Linked DNA regions of Homo sapiens: region 1 is linked to region 2. Evidence: fine-mapped expression QTL. Tissue or cell type: whole blood. Region 2 holds a variant in brackets; the other region holds the start of a gene. All regions are shown on one strand. Distances are from middle to middle.

Evidence for each region. PIP is the estimated chance that this variant, and not a neighbour inherited with it, causes the effect.
Region 1: it holds the start of LSM4, and the variant in region 2 is fine-mapped to the expression of LSM4 in whole blood (TOPMed, PIP above 0.99).

The regions. Positions count from the first base shown.
Region 1 is chr19:18,319,684-18,327,784 of GRCh38, forward strand. It overlaps LSM4 (LSM4 homolog, U6 small nuclear RNA and mRNA degradation associated), which reads right to left and starts at 3,393. Exons shown (of 5, transcript NM_012321.5): 1 at 3,335-3,393. The coding sequence starts at 3,337. LOC105372300 (a long non-coding RNA gene) reads left to right here. Exons shown (of 2, transcript XR_007067157.1): 2 at 2,051-2,314. RefSeq lists a silencer at 3,274-3,453 and enhancers at 3,514-3,733, 3,932-4,534.
Region 2 is chr19:18,288,868-18,296,968 of GRCh38, forward strand. It overlaps LOC124904653 (a long non-coding RNA gene), which reads right to left and starts at 3,976. Exons shown (of 2, transcript XR_007067155.1): 1 at 3,705-3,976; 2 at 1,723-3,020. RefSeq lists enhancers at 1,123-1,762, 3,042-3,680, 3,681-4,320, 4,321-4,959, 4,325-4,404 and 1 more, cis regulatory regions at 1,412-1,780, 2,360-4,915 and silencers at 1,815-1,864, 2,545-2,974, 3,425-3,594, 4,549-4,751, 5,836-6,018 and 1 more. The variant G/A (reference allele first, on the strand shown) is at 4,471.

The DNA.
Region 1 (8,101 bases), 31 kb after region 2:
TTCCTGCCACCTGACCTTTGCTTCTGCTATTGCCTCTGCCTGGGGTGACCTTCCCCAGGCTGCTGAAACGTCACCTCCTTTGGCCAGGCCCTTTTAATGGCCACCCTCTGCCTCATGGGTGTTTGTTTCCATCATAGGATGCAGCCAGTCTTTAATTACCTTGTTTATTACCTGTGTCCCTCGCTAGACTGGAACACTCAAAGTGGGTGTGGACTTTGTCCAGGGCCAAGCACAAGGCCAGGCACATGAGAGGGACTCGGTAAATATTTGCTGAATAAATACACAAGAAAAATGCACACACTACCCAGGGAGGCATGCAGGGAAGGCAGAACACTCGCCCCACCCCACAGGTAAGGGAAGGAGTGGCTGCGGGACAGGGAGCTGCCTGACTCCCAGGCCCTCCCAGGCTGCAATGGCCTGGGCCTGTGACCATATATCTTGATTTCTCCTACATCCTCATCTCCAAACTCTGTTGGAGAGAGGTCAGAGGAAGGGGTGGATCCTCAAAATCTTAAAAGAAGATACATCAAAGTGCCAGGTGAGGCTGGGCACAGTGGCTTGTGCCTGCAATCACAGCACTTTGGGAGACTGAGGTGGGAGGATCGCTTGAGCCCAGGAGTATGAGACCAGCTTGGGCAACACAAAAGATTCTGTCTCTACAAAAAATCTAGAAATTAGCCAGGTTTAGTGATGCATGCCTGTGGTCCCAGCTACTTGGGAGGCTGAGGTCAGGTGGGAGGATCACGGGCCAGTGAGGTTGAGGCTGTAGTGATTGTGCCACTGCACTCCAGCCTGGATGAGAGTGAGATCTCAGCTCTGAAAAACAAAAAAAGTCTAGAGTGCAGTGGCTCACGCCTGTAATCCCAGCACTTTGAGAGGCCGAGGTGGGTGGATCACCTGAGCTCAGGGGTTCAAGACTAGCCTGGCCAACATAGTGAAACCTGATCTCTACTGAAAATACAAAAATTATCCAGGTGTGGTGGTGCGTGCCTGTAATCACAGCTACTTGGGAGGCTGAGGTAGGAGAATCACTCTCGGAGAGGTGGAGGTTGCAGTGAGCTGAGATTACACCACTGCACTTCAGCCTGGGCGACAGAACAAGACTCTGTCTCAAAAAAATAAATAAAATGAAATAGAAAAAGAAAAAAAGTGCCAAGTGTGATAGGAGAGGCCCCACCCTGGTTTATGGAAGGTCACAAGAAAATTCAGAAAAGAGAATTCCTTTCTCTGGGCTTTCTTGGAGCATCTGGAATCTGGTTCTCAGGTCTAGATCCACGAGGACCTAAACCCAGTGCCTCCTAATTCAGGAAGCTGTCCAGGACTGCCCATCCCCGCTGCTAACCTAGGCCACTCCTTCTGGCCCTGCCCTGACGACAGGGAACTGGAAGTGTGTATCCTGTGATGGCTTGTCCATTCTCGGCTACTCCTCCAGGAAACAGCTGGACAGCCAGGACTCTGGATGTTCAGAAGGTGGGAAGGGGCTGAATGAATGAGTTCACACTTTGCCCACGCACCGTTCTACATACTGGGAATCTAGTCGGAAGAAAAACGAAGATCCTGCTCCCACAAAACTTAACACAGGGATGGATCCTTCCAGCTCTGCCCAGTCTTACATGCCAACTCTGCCCTCTAAGTACACCGCAGAGAGGGACAGGCTCTCTGAATCCTTGCACTTGAAATCGCCTTTGCAAAAATTGTAGCGGGAAATTATGACAGTGAAAAGAGATCAGACCTAACCGACTCCATTGTGCTTCTAACCTTTACGCCATCTTTGCTTATTCCTAGGTATAGGCCAAACTAACCTTGGGAAGGGATTTAGTTTATAGTTTGACTCTGGAACAAAATTGGTAATAGCCCTTTCCCGAAAAGACCCTCTTCTTGCCTGGGGACCAGTCTGCCTTTGTAGGACTAACAAATAAGCTACAAGATTAGAAATTACCATTTAGGTAACTTCAGCCTCTGGCTGCAAGAGTCTGAAACTCCCCAAATTGCTCCTTGGGATAACATCACTATTATAAAATCTAAGATCAGTGCTTGAGATATTTTGCAGACCCCGTACTTGACGGATCAGCTGACACTACCCAGACCAGTAATCTGGCTCAACCAGTCCTGCGATCCCACCCAGGAACAGAAGACAGCAAGAAAACCTCACTTCAACACTCCCGTCGATGACTCCATCGACCTCAGGAAGCTCCAACCAATCAGCACTCCCCACTTCCTGAGCCCCTACCCGCCAAATTATCTTTCAAAACTCGGATCCCCTAATGCTCAGCGGAGACTGATTTGAGCAATAATAAAACTCTGGTCTCCTGCATAGCTGGCTCTGTGTGAAATACTCTTTCTCCACTGCAATTCCCCTGTCTTGATAAATCTGTCTAGGAAGACAGGCAAGGTGAACCCATTGGGTGGTTACACACTGACCAGCCGGATTTAGGGAGAGTTCTCACTAATCCACAGTTCTGATGCAGCCACCCCTGGGGGACCCTCCTGGTTACTGAATCTCCCACTGTCTCACAGAGTCTGGAAGTCACATCCCCAACAAGGGCCTTGGTTTCTCTCATTGAAAAAAGAAGGACCAGAAGCTGATGGGCCAGGAAACTCCCAGCTCTGAATTCCTTTTCCGATCTGCACAGTGGGGGACACGGGCACTTTCTAGCCCAGATCCAGAACTTCCAGAATCATAAACAATGGGCCCTGCAGAGACCTGGGCCGCAATTTTTCCTTCTTTGTATTGGGAGGATGTACTTTGTCCACCCCTAGCTCAAAACGCCCCCTTCCGCTGGAATGACATGCTATGTGACCCAAGGAGAAACACCACACCCCAGCACCAGGCCTGCTTTTCAGCCAGAAACCAAGAGGCCTAGGAGGCTGTGCTGCTAGCATCTTGCAAGCTCTGAAATTCCTAAAACTAAGTTTCACAACTCAGACTGGCCCCCTACTTCCCAGCACTCTAGTTTTCAATCAGGGAGGTCAGACTGGGCCCGAAGCGTAAGGGACCCCTTCCCTGCCCAAAAACTCTCTGCTGCATTTGGCGGATCCCCACCTTTTTTTTTTTTACTTCAGTTTCCCCACCTGCAAACTGGGAAAACTAACTAAGGCGAGGCCACTGTACTGTGGATACAAGTCCGTGCAACCCTAAATCCCAGACACGAACGTGATAGAGCCACCTGCAGTCTCCGGCCTCAGTTTCCCAGCCTCGTGCCGGGGGGCGGGACTCGAGGCTCGGACCTTACGTTCGCCCCGCGCCAACCAAGCCCACAGCGCCCGCCCGCAGGGATCCCAACGACTGCTGTTCCCGCCTCCCGGTGAGACCCCGCAGTTGCCCTGCCCTCACCATGGTGCCGGCGGGGACCGGGCTCGCCGGCCACTTCCGCCGCCGCCGCTGCACACGCTCCCGGCGGTCGTCGCCGCGCCGCGCGCCACTAAGCTGAAAGAAAGTGGCAGAGACGCAAGCCAGTCAGCACCGGGCTCGAAGGGCGGTCAACCAATCCACGCGGAGTAGGGCGGGGCCCGCTGGGCGAAAGGGCGGGGCGGGCCGTGTTCCCGCCGGAGGAACGAGGACGAGAGCCGTAAAGTGCCGCGGCTTGTAATGCAAAAGGAGGCGGAGCAACGCGCGCCGGCGCGGGGTGCATTGTGAGGAAATGCGTGCGCAGGTGAAACCTTCGTCGGTCTCCTGGGCTCCACGCTGTGGGCAAAGCCAGTTAATGCCTTTCGTTTGCAGTAGAGAGAGAGAAATCGAGGCTTCGTGGTGATTGGGCCGTGCCTGATGTTGCCCTTCCGACTCCTAGTTTTCTGATTCTGTAATTATCCAGGGAACATCATTTAATAGGTTGGAATCCTGACCACGACCCTCGGGGCCTCAGTTTGCTCCCTGTAAATAGTAGTGTCTGCTCCAAAACGTTGCTTACTGTAAGGATGAAATGAATGAAACCATGTAAAAGCACTTAAAACAGCGTCTGGCACATATTAAGTACTTATTACCTACTCTGTGCCTGTTTCTGCTCACAGAATGAACAAAACACAAAATTCGTGGCCCTCAGGGAGACAGACAGTAAACAAAGTAAATAGGCGAATGCTATTAGTTTTCTGGGGCCTGCTGTAACAAATGCCCACACACTGCGAGGTTTAAAACAACAGAACGTGATTTTCTCACAATTCAAGAGATCAGAATAATGAAGTGAGGTTGTCAGCACAGTTGGCTCCCTCTGGAGGCTCTGAGGACAATCTGTGTGTCCTATGCCTCTCTCCTGGGTTCTGGTGGCTGCTGGGAATCCTTGGAGTTCTTGGCTTGTAGATGCAGCCTTCCGCGTTCTGCCTTTGTCGTCACTTGGCCTTCTCTGTGTGTCTCTGAGTCTCAAATGTATCTCTCCTTTTTTTTTTCTTTTTTTTTTTTGTAGTAGAGACAGGGTCTCCCTATGTTGTCCAGGCTGGTCTCGAACTCCTGGGGTCAAGCAATCCTCCCTCCTCTGCCTCCCAAAGTGCTGGGATTACAGGCGTGAGCCACCGAGCCCGGCCGCTCCTTTTTCTTGTAAAGGACACTCCTTTCTCTTATTAAGTCCACCATAAATTTCAGGATAATGTCATCTCAAGATCCTTAATTACATCTGCGAAGACCCTGTTCTTTTTTTTTTGAGATGGAGTCTCATTCTATCACCCAGGCTGCAGTGCAGTGGTGCGATCTCAGCTCACTGCAACCCCTCCCTCCTGGGTTCAAGGGATTCTTCTGCCTCAGCCACCCGAGTGGCTAGGATTACAGGCACATGCCACAATGCCCAGCTAATTTTTGTATTTTTAGCAGAGACGGGGTTTTGCCATGTTGGCCAGGAGGTGGCCTCGAACTCCTGACCTCAGGTGATCCTTCCACCTTGGCCTCCCAAAGTGCTGGGATTACAGGCATGAGTCACCACGCCCAGCCTCGTTTTTAAATGACTGATGCTATTTATTGACATTATTCATAATATCAAAAGACTGAAAAAAACCCAATGCGACCAAATAATAGAGTAATACAGCTATAAAAAGGAATGAAGACAATCTTCATATACTGACATTGAATGGTGTCTGGATATCTTAAGTGAAAAAAACCAAGGTAGAGAACAGTTTTTACAATATGTCCTCTTTTGTGTGCAAAAAGAGAAATACATGCATGTGTATGTGTATATATATTTGCATGTGTGTGTGTATATATATATATATATATATTTTTTTTTTTTAACCACACCAAGCACGTGAACCAAATTTGCTTATATTTTTAATAAGAAACATAAAGGCCAGGCTCAGTGGCTCATGCCTGTAATTGCAGCACTTTGGGAGGCCGCGGTGGGCAGATCACCTGAGGTCAGGAGTTTGAGACCAGCCTGGCCAATATGGTGAAACCCCATCTCTACTAAAAATACAAAAAAATTATCTGGGCATGGTGGCGGGCACCTGTAATCCCAGCTACTCTGGGGGCTGAGGCAGGAGAATTGCTTGACCCCGGGAGGTAGAGGTTGCAGTGAGCCGAGAACGTGCCACTGCACTGCAGCCTGGGCGACAGAGTGAGACTCTGTCTCAAAAAAAAAAAAAAAAAGAAACGTAAAAAGTACGAACCAGGCCAGGAGCGGTGGCCCATGCCTGTAATCCCAGCACTCTGAGAGGCTGAGGTGGCTGGACCACTTGAGCCCAGGAGTTCCAGACCAGCCTGGGAAATACAGCAGCAAAACCCTGAATCTACAAAAAATGCAAACAAGTAGCCAAGTGTGGTGACTGTGCATGAAGTCTCAGCTACTCAGGAGGCTGAGCAGGGAGAACTGCTTGAGCCTAGGAGGCAGAGGTTGCAGTAAGCTGTGATCCTGCCTCTGCACTCCAGCCTGGGTGACAGAGCAACACACTGTCTCAAAACAAACAAACAAAAGAAGCATGAACCAAAATATAGGCCAGGCACGGTGTCTCACACTTTAATCCCAGCATTTTGGGAGGCTGAGGCAGGTGGATCACCTGAGGTCATGAGTTCGAGACCAGCCTGGCCAACATGGTAAAACCCCATCTCTATAAAAATACAAAAATTATCTGGGCGTGGTGGCGCGTGCCTGTAGTCCCAGCTACTCAGAAGGCTGAGGCAGGAGAATCACTTGAACCCGGTTAGGAGGAGGTTACAGTGCATGCCATTGCACTCCAGCCTGGGTGACAGAGCAAGACTCCATCTCAAAAAAAAAAAAAAAAAAAAAAAAGTAACCTGGGAGAATAAGGGAACAAGATGAAATCATAAGAATGAAAGCCAGACTTCTTTCAGTGTACCTTATTGTCTAGTTTCAACTTTGGAAGCATAATTAAAAATAAAAGTCAAAAGGAAAAATCAAAAGAAATCCCTAAAAATGGAAACAAACAAATGAACCTCACTGTATATCAAGTTGCAAAGACCCTATTTCAATTACAGTCACATTCACAGCTACCAGCAGGTTAGGATTTGGATATACGTGTGTGTGTGTGTGTGTAAATTTTTTTACGACTGCGTCCCTCTTGCCCAGGTTGGAGTATAGTGGTGCCATATGGCTTATTGCATCCGCAACTTCCTGGGGTCAAGTGATCCTCCCATCTCAGCCTCTGAGTAGCTGAGACTGCACACAGGTGTCACCGCCACGCCCAGCTTATTTATTAATTTAATTTATTTATTTATTCATTTTGTAGAGATGGGGGTCTGCTTGTTGCCCTGCCCTCACCGTGCTAGCCTCCAACTCCTGGGCTCAAGAGATCCTCCCACCTTGGCCTCCCAAAGTGCCAGGATTATAGGCATGAGCCACCATGCCCAGCTGGGATATATATTTTTAGGGGCTACTACTCATTACATCAAGTATCAGCTGTGGTAGCTTTAAACATAGGCATTTATTTGAGTAGTTTACTTCTCCACAGTGACATGCCTATAGTTTTTTTTTTTTTTTTTTTTTGAAACAGAGTCTCATTCTGTCACTCAGGCTGGAGTACAGTGGCGCGATCTCGGCTCACTGCAACCTCCACCTCCTGGGTTCAAGCGATTCTCCTGCCTCAGCCTCCCAAGTAGCTGGGATTACAGGTGTGCACCACCACACACAGCTAATTTTTGTATTTTTAGTAGAGACGGGGTTTCACCATGTTGGCCAGGCTGGTCTCAAACTCCTGACCTCGGGTGATCCACCTGCCTCGGCCTCCCAAAGCGCTGGGATTGCAGGAGTGAACCACTGTGCCCGGCCAATGACATGCCTATAGTTACATACACTTGCAAGCAGGACTATAACCTGAATTCCTAGAAGAGGCTTATCTAGGTGCCAATCAAAGGTTCCATCCCCTGGCCACATGCCTTGACTTTCAGGCCTACAAATGAGCAATAGGGGACCTCATAAAGTGACTCCTTGTATCCCAGCCTCCTGAGTCTCAGCACTGCCCTGAGAGCCTTTTCTTACCAAGTCCAGGGTGAGGAACTTCTGGCTGAAAGGACCCTATGCCTCTCAGAGCTGAACTGGGGAACCCTTGTTCAACTTCTCAAAGATTTTCCTGCTGGGCATGGCGGAGCACGCCTGTAGTCCCAGCTACTCAGGAGGCCGAGGCAGGATGATCGTTTGAGCCCAGCAGTTCGAAATCCCAATTCCCTGATCCTTCTGACTGGCACCACATCCAGGTGGAGTGGACTCTGGAGGTCTGAGAAAGCCCAGGGAGCCTTATAAGAGGAAGCCAGGCCAGGCGCAGTGGCTCACACGTATAATCCCAGCACTTTGGGACGCCGAGGTGGGAGGAGATCACTTGAGCCAGAAGTTCCAGACCAGACTGGGCAACATAATAAGACCTACGTCTCTACTAAAAATTTTAAAATAGGCCAGGCATGGTGGCTCATGCCTGTAATCCCAGCACTTTGGGAGGCCGAAAGTTCAGGAAAGTTCAGGTTCAGGACCAGCCTGGCCAACATGGTGGAAACCCTGTCTCTACTGAAAAAAAAAAAAAATACAAAAATTAGCTGGGTGTGGTGGTGCGCCTGTAATCCCAGCTACTCAGGAGGCTGAGGTGGGAGAATTGCTTGAACTAGGGAGGTGGAGGCTGCAGTGAGACCAGATTGCACCACCGCACTCCAGCCTAGGCAACAGAGCAAGACCCCATC
Region 2 (8,101 bases):
AGATCGAGACCATCCTGGCTAACACGGTGAAAACCTGTCTCTACTAAAAATACAAAAAAAAAATTAGCCAGGCGTGGTGGGCAGGTACCTGTAGTCCCAGCTACTGGGGAGGCTGAGGCAGGAGAATGGTGTGAACCCGGGAGGCGGAGCTTGCAGTGAGCCAAGATCGCACCACTGAACTCCAGCCTGGGTGACAGAGTGAGACTCTGTCTCAAAAAAAAAAAAAAAAAAAAAAAAAAGATAAATTGGTTTGTAGTCTGAGCAGGGTGGCTCATGCTTATAATCCCAGCTCTTTGAGAGGCAGAGACAGGAGGATCTCCTGAGCCCAGAAGTTCAAGAGCAGCCTGGGCAACATAGCAAGAACCCATCTCTACAAAAAGATAGAAAAATTAGCTGGTTGGGAGGCTGAGGCGGGCGGATCACAAGGTGAGGAGATCGAGACCAGCCTGGCCAACATGGTGAAACCCCATCTCTACTAAAAATAGAAAAATTAGCCGGGTGTGGTGGCGCATGCCTGTAATCCCAGCTACTCAGGAGGCTGAGGCAGGAGAATCGCTTGAACCTGGGAGGCAGAGATTGCAGTGAGCTGAGATCGTGCCACTGCACTCCAGCCTGGGCAACAGAGCGAGACCCTGTCTCAAAAAAAAAAAAAGCTGGTTTGGTTTTTTGTTTCTTGGTTGTTTTGGGCCAAACTCACATACCATCATTCATCGATTCAACCATGCTTTTTTTTTTTTTTTTTTTTTTGGAGACAAAGTGTCACTCTGTCTCTGAGGCTGGTGTGCAGTGGCACGTTCTCAGCTCACTGCAATCTCTGCCTCCCAGGTTCAAGCAATTCTAGTGCCTCAGCCACCAGAGTAGCTGGGATTACAGGCACATGCCACCACACCAACTAATTTTTGTATTTTTAGTAGAGATGGGGTTTCTCCATGTTGACCAGGCTGGTCTTGAACTCCTCACCTCAAGTGATCCGCCTGCCTCAACCTCCAAAAGTTCTGGGATTATAGGCATGAGCCACTGCGCCCGACGACCATGCTCTATTGAGTGCCCGCTGTGTGCTGGGCAGGTGGGTTCTCACCGCCCAGAGGTGATGTTCTGGGGGACTGGAAGCAAGGTCATTTTAGAGAAGCATGCTGTAGGTTGGTCTCACGATTTTCCTTTAAGTTGGCCCCCTTTTCTGTTTTTACTTCAGTAAATACATTTTAAAAGGGAACCTTCATGTCACCACCAAGAATGGAAAACCAGTTTCTCTTGCTATAAATAGAAGGAAACCAAAAAACTATGAAATGAGAGCAAAGTCAGGCATTCCCACCTCAGGAACACTCAGGGCTGGGGCTGGACTTCGAATGTCTGAGTCTTATCAAAGGCAGGGAAGCCCCAAGCAGAAGGGCAGGAGGGGCCACAGGGACCCACTTGGCAGATGCTCCAGTCCCGTGGGTCCCAGCACACAGTAGGTGCTTGATGAATGTGTGTTGATCTGTTAACATGCAACCCATTATTGTAGGTGCCCCCCCCCACCATGATGTGTGGGTTTTGCCTGCATCCGACCACATACTCGTGGCTTTTCCAGGTACTGAGCCATTTCCCCGCTGACAGACTGAGGGCAGGGTGGTGCCTGAATGGGGAGGGGTGGGGGAGGTGGCAGGCAGCTGCCTCTTGGGCAGGGGACCCCACAGGGGCCTCTCTGGGGAGGCTTCGGTTTGGTTTGGTGACATGCCAGGATGCAGCTCTGGGCAAACGTTTATTTGCAGCCTTGGGGCTGTCCCCACCCACGGTCCTGTGGGCCCCTGACGTCTGTCCACACTGAGATGTGGGCCCCTGTGGCCCGCCGCCCTCCCTGGCTGTCTGTGGTGTGTGAATCAATGAATGAGTGAATGAGTAAAGGAATGAATGCAATAAGTAGCATAATGGATGAGTTCGTAGAATAATGAATGGATGAGTGAATTAATGAATGAGTGGAAGTATTCATGCTGCCAAGATGGGAAACCCATTCTCCAGGTATTCTTTTTTTTTTTTTTTAAGACACAGTCTTGCTCTGTCGCCCAGGCTGGAGTGCAATGGCACTATCTCGGCTCACTGCAGCCTCCACCTCCTGGGTTCAAGTGATTCTCCTGCCTCAGCCTCCTGAGTAGCTGGGATTACAGGCGTGCGCCACCACGCCCGGCTAATTTTTGTATTTTTGTAGAGACGGGATTTCACCATGTTGGCCAGGCTGGTCTGGAACTCCTGACCTCAAGTAATCCGTCCGCCTCGGCCTCCCAGAGTGCTGGGATTACAGGCGTGAGCCATCTAGATATGCTTTGTCCCCTTTTTTCGGATGGACAAACTGAGGCTGTCAGCCAAGAAAGGCTTCAGTATGTGGAAGGCAGATTCGAAGCCAGTTGGCCCTGCACATCGTGGGCTGCATTTCTGCACCAAGACTGGGGGTTCCTGGAGCGAGCTTAGGGGTCCGGACTGGTGCAGACGGGGCGCTGGACCTGGCCCCCAGCCAGCGGAAGGGATCTGGGCCCCAGATGGGGAGTAGATGGAACTGGAGGCAAGGCAGGCGGCAGGGGGTGAAGAGGCCGCTGCCCCAGGCTGCGGGGATGGGGAGGCACCGGCAGGGTCCGCGTTGATTCAGAAAGGACCCCAAGGAAGGAGCAACTTTGGGGGACCCCAAAGTTGTCTGAGTGGTATCAAAGGCCGTGCACATGGGGCCCTTAAGCGCTACAGCAGGGGCAATAGTGGAGAGACCCCACGCCTTCCCGCCTCCCGCTGCCCCCGCATCCCCTTCCTCCCGCCTCCCGCCTCCCCCCTGCTCCTCGCCTCTCGCTCTCCCGGGGAGGAAGTGGCGAGAATGCGGGGGTGGGCACCCTATTCTCACTTCCCCTGGGGAAGGGCGGGGCCTGCGGGGTCCTCTCCGCCGCCGGGAGACGGCATCTCCGCGTACAGGGGTGGGGGCGGGGAGCCCTAGGAGCTGGGCAGGCGCTGCTCAGTCCCTGGCCAGGTGACGTCCGTAAGTTTCCTGGTCTTCGATGGTTCTCGAATGAAAAATGGGGGGAAAGACATTGAGTTGGAAACAGCGAGTTGTTGGGGAGAGAGGACCCCACCCCGGGCCGGTACTAGCAGCCAGACACGGACACGCCCTGCCCCGGAGGGGTCAGGGCCAGGCCGAAGGGAGGGAAGTCGCAGTAAACACAGGGTTGGGTTGGGGCGGGAGGCGCATTCCAGGCGGAGGGAACGGCGCGGGCAGAGGCCTGGAGGCTGGTGGAGGCCTCCTGCCTCGCCTAGCTGCGGGGTCCTCAGCGTGTGGCCCCTCCCCTAATGGGAGGGGGGGAGAAAGGATCCGGGGGGAGAGGTCTCGGAGCTGTCGGCGGCAGTGGAAGAGTTAACTTCCCGGGGCTGCCGGACCCCGCCGCGAGCTGGCGGGTGGCGTCAGCGCCAACGTCAGGGCGAAGTGGTGCCGCGTAGACGCGGACGCTTCGGCCGCCCGGCCCCCACCCCACGCGGCGCTGGAGGCCGCGGGGATGGGGGCGGGGGCGGTCGGCCCTGCAAGCAATTTACTGGGCTCTGTGCAGAGAGGGAAATTGAGGCACGGGAACGGCCGTGGCCTGGCTGGTGCTAAGCCCGCTAGCCCGCGTCCCACACTACCGCCCCCTCCCAGCTCCTCCAGGTCGCCGGACGACCTGGAGCTGGTTTGGGCTTGTTTTCCATTGCGCAAATACCTGCGAATAAACGTTTGCCCCGAGCTGCGACTTGGCACATCACCACCTCTGCATGGCCTCAGTTTCCTCAACCGGATAATGGGGAGAGTTGACATTTAGTGTGGGCGCTGGGTTCGGCCTTGAAAAGGGGGTGTGGGAGGGGACTGCACCCCAAGAAAGAGGCTGGAGCGGGGACACCTGCGAGGCTGTCTGTGAATTCCGGGCTGGTTCTCCAGCCCCCTCCTCTCCTCCCGTCGCTCACTCCCCTCCTCTCCCTCCCCTTCCTGCTTCAGCTTCCCCTCCCCTCTTCCTTATCCCCTTCTCCCTCCCGTCTCCCCCGATCTCCTCTCCACCCCCTCTCTCCCTTTCCCCCGCCCGCCCAGCGAGGCCGCCCCACCGGACTGCTAATTAAATGCAGAGCTGGGGGGAAGGGACGGCGCGTGGTTAACCCCTTCCCCGCCGGGGCCCTGAACCGGGGATGGGGAAGGGTGTCCGCCACCGGAATTTCCTCCCCCCCAGGGGCAGGCCTTAAGCTCTAGGACAAGCCCATTTATTGAGTGGGTATATCGAGGCCAAAGGAACGGCCCCAACGTTCTGGGTGAGGCTGTACTAAATCGGGCCTCCTGATTGGAGGGCCAGAGCTTCGAGATAGCGGAAGAGAAAAGCAATATCGTGGCTTGGAAATAAACCAAGAGAAAAAAAAATGAGTTGGAAGGAGAGACAGCGGGAGAGGGAGGCTGGAAAAAAATCTAGGAGCAAGACAGAGACAGAGAGACAACCAGGTAAG[G/A]GAGGTGGAGCTCCGGGTGTGGCCTGGAGGCACCCAGGCAGGCTCCCGGTAGGAGGCGGCTTCCTGGAGGAACCTGTGGTGGAATAACTCCTGGCCCTGGTGTTAGCCTCCAGGCCTGGCTCACGCACTGACTGCTGACTTCTGATAGGGCCTTGTGGCCTGAAAGGAAGGTCATGCCTGCCTTTGGAGCCATCGGTCAACCCAAGTCCCCGCCCTGTCCCTGAAAACATCAGAGAGGAGCCCAGCGAAGCGAAGTGTGGGCTATGTGCTGTGAGGTGACTCAGTGGCCCCTCATTCTTGGGACGGGAACAACTGAAAGAAGTGAATGATATAAAGTCAGGTGGTGAGAAAGCAAATGACAGCAGGCGGAGGGAGTGTGGGGTGGGGGGGGCCAGAGGATCCATGATACCAGCAGCAGGGCCACCATGAGGATGCCCCAGGGAAGGGTGTTCCTGAAAGCTGGAGTAGCACGTGCAAAGGCCCTGGGGAGGAATTTGAGGTATTTGTTTGTTTGTTTTTTGAGAGGAGTCTCCCTCTGTCCCCCAGGCTGGAGTACAGTGGTGCGATCTCAGCTCACTGCAACCTCCACCTACCAGGTTCACGCGATTCTTCTGCCTCAGCCTCCCGAGTAGCTGGAATTACAGGCGTGCGCCACGATGCCCAGCTAATTTTGTATTTTTAGTAGACAGGGTTTCACCATATTGGCCAGGATGGTCTCCACCTCTTGATCTCGTGATTCGTCCGCCTCAGCCTCCTAAAGTGTTGGGATTACAGGCGTAAGCCACTGTACCCGGGCTGAATTTGAGGTGTGTTAAGGGAACATCCAGGAGGAGGCGTGGCGCAGGGTGAGGAGAGATGGAGGATTACAGGGGCCTCCAGATCCTAAGCAGGGAGGGTGGGGGGTGGCTTGAGTCCTTGGCCAGCCCAGGTGGAGCCTGTGACTGCTCTCCCTGCCTCACTTTTCCTACCATTATGCATGCTCCAGAAGCAGCAGGGGAGGCTTTGGGGATGTGGAGGTTGCCCAGGGTCACAGGGACCCCTGTTGTGCCCTCCGTCAGTGCCCCTCTGGCCTCCCCACACCCTCTGTGGCTCCCTGCTGTGGCCAGTCTTCCCCATCATCGCCCCTGGCTCTCTTCTCTCCTGCAGTCCAGCCACTCAGCCCTTGTACATGTCCCTCATCTGTTCTCACAATGCCCACCCCAGGTGACAACATCCTCCCAAGCCCCCTTCAGGAGATGGTGGGGCTGACACTAACAGGGGAGGGGGTGTAGGGAAGGTGAGCACCCTGGCCCCTGAGTGCTGCACACAAACTGTGTAAAAATAGCTGCTCCCCCTGCCCCCTGTGAGGAGGCGGCTGTGACGGTGGTGGCTGCAGTGACGGGGATGTGCCCAGAGAAGCATCCGGCAGGGCCAGTTGCCATGGTGATGCTGACTCAGCGGCAGAGGCAGGTAGCAGCATCTGGTACCCGGCCGGCACGCCTCTGCTTGGCCTACGCTCATAGCACCCTGTCCAGCCCCAACTTTCCAGCCTCCACCCTGGGGGTGTCTTCTGAGGCTGCAGAGGGGTGGGTGAGACCTCGGGAAGGACTGGACAAGTTCCTCCACCAGACACCACTCAGTCATCTGCTGGAAGGTGGGAGACGCTGCTTCTCATGGAGCGGACCTCAGTGTCAGGTCTTCCTCCCTCTATCAGCCATCCGCCCATCTACCTACTCACCCATCCATCCACTCATCCACCATCCACTCATCCCCCATCCATCCACCATCCACCCATCCATCTACCATCTGCCCATCTACCATCCATCCACCCACCTGTCCATCTATCCACCCATCCACCATCCACTCATCCCCCATCCATCATCCACCAATCAGTCCATCATCCACCCATCCATCCACCATCTACCCATTCATCCATCCATCCATTCCTCCACCCAGCGGCCATCCATCCATGCACCATCTACCCATCCACCATCTGCCCATCCACCATCCATCCATCTACCCACCATCCATCCATCTACCCACCCACCCATGCATCCACCATCCACCCATTCACCATCCACCCATCCACCATCCGTCCACCGTCCACCCATCCACCACCTAACCATCCACCAGCCATCCATCCACCTGTCTACCCACTGACCCATCCATCCACCATCCACTCACCCACCCATCCACCCATCCATCCACCCATCCACCTATCTACCCACCCACCCATGTATCCACCATCCACCCATTCACCATCCACCCATCCATCCACCATCTACCCATCCACCATCCATCCACCATCCACCTACCATCTACCCATCCACCATCCATCCACCATCCACTCATCCATCTACCATCTACCCATCCACCATCCATCCACCATCCACTCATCCATCTACCATCTACCCATCCACCATCCATCCATCCATCCACCTATCTACCCACCAATCCATCCATCCACCATCCACTCATCCACCCATCCATCCACCATCCACCCATCCACCTATCTACCCACCCACCCATCCATCCACCCATCCATCCACCCATCCACCTATCCACCATCCACCCATCCGTCCACCATCCACCCTTCCATCCACCAATCCACCTATTCATCCAGCCACCCATCCACTTACCACACACCCACCCATCCATCCATTCCTGTGTTCATCCATTCACTCAACATTTTTGGAGCACTTACCGTGTACTGACATCCTTCTGGGCACATGGTGGTTGCCACTGTCGATGCAGGCAGGGTATCAGCAGTCTGGGGTGCAGGGACTTGGGTGAGGACAAGGCCTCCTTGGCTACTTGGAGCCAGGCCTTGAGATGCTGAGGCCCTATCTCTTCCTTGTTCTCCTAGTCTTGCTCCCTCTCTCTTCCTGCATCTCTCAATCTCTCTGTTTTCCCATCTGAGTCCATCTTAGATCCTTCCCCATATCCCCAGGCCCCCCAGCAGCTGCCGTCTATTCCCCTCTTCTTCTCCCCACTCACTTGTTCCATGCCAGCTTTCCCTTGGGTACAGCTATGTATTCCCACCTCGGGGTCTTTGCACATGCTGTTCCCACTGTCTGGGAGACTCACTCACCTGGAATTGATCATATTTAATTCTTGGCTGGCTTTCTTTCTTTCTTTCTCTCTCTCTCTCTTTTTTTTTTTGAGATGGAGTCTCACTCTGTTGCCCAGGATGGAGTGCAGTGACGCAGTCACAGCTCACTGCCCCCTCCATCTCCCGGGTTCAAGCGATTCACCTGCCTCAGCGTCCCGAGTAGCTGGGATTACAGGCACACGGCACCACACCCTGCTAATTTTTGTATTTTTAGTAGAAACGGGGTTTCACCATGTTGGCCAGGCTGGTCTTGAACTCCTGACCTCAGGTGATCTGCCCACCTTGGCCTCCCAAAGTGCTCTGGGTTTACCATATTTAATTCTTGCCTTCCTTAATGTCTGCCTCTATCCCCATCCCCAGAGTATAAAGGCCAAAGAGCTGACCTGTGGTTCTTTCAGGGACCTATTTGTGCCTTCATATCTCCAACTACGAAATGGGTAAATGGACATGGTGCTAGCAGGATGACCTCATAACTGGGGCAGGGGTTGGGAGGAAGCCCTTAGACCTGTGCCCACTGCAGATTAAACACTCAGTAAACTC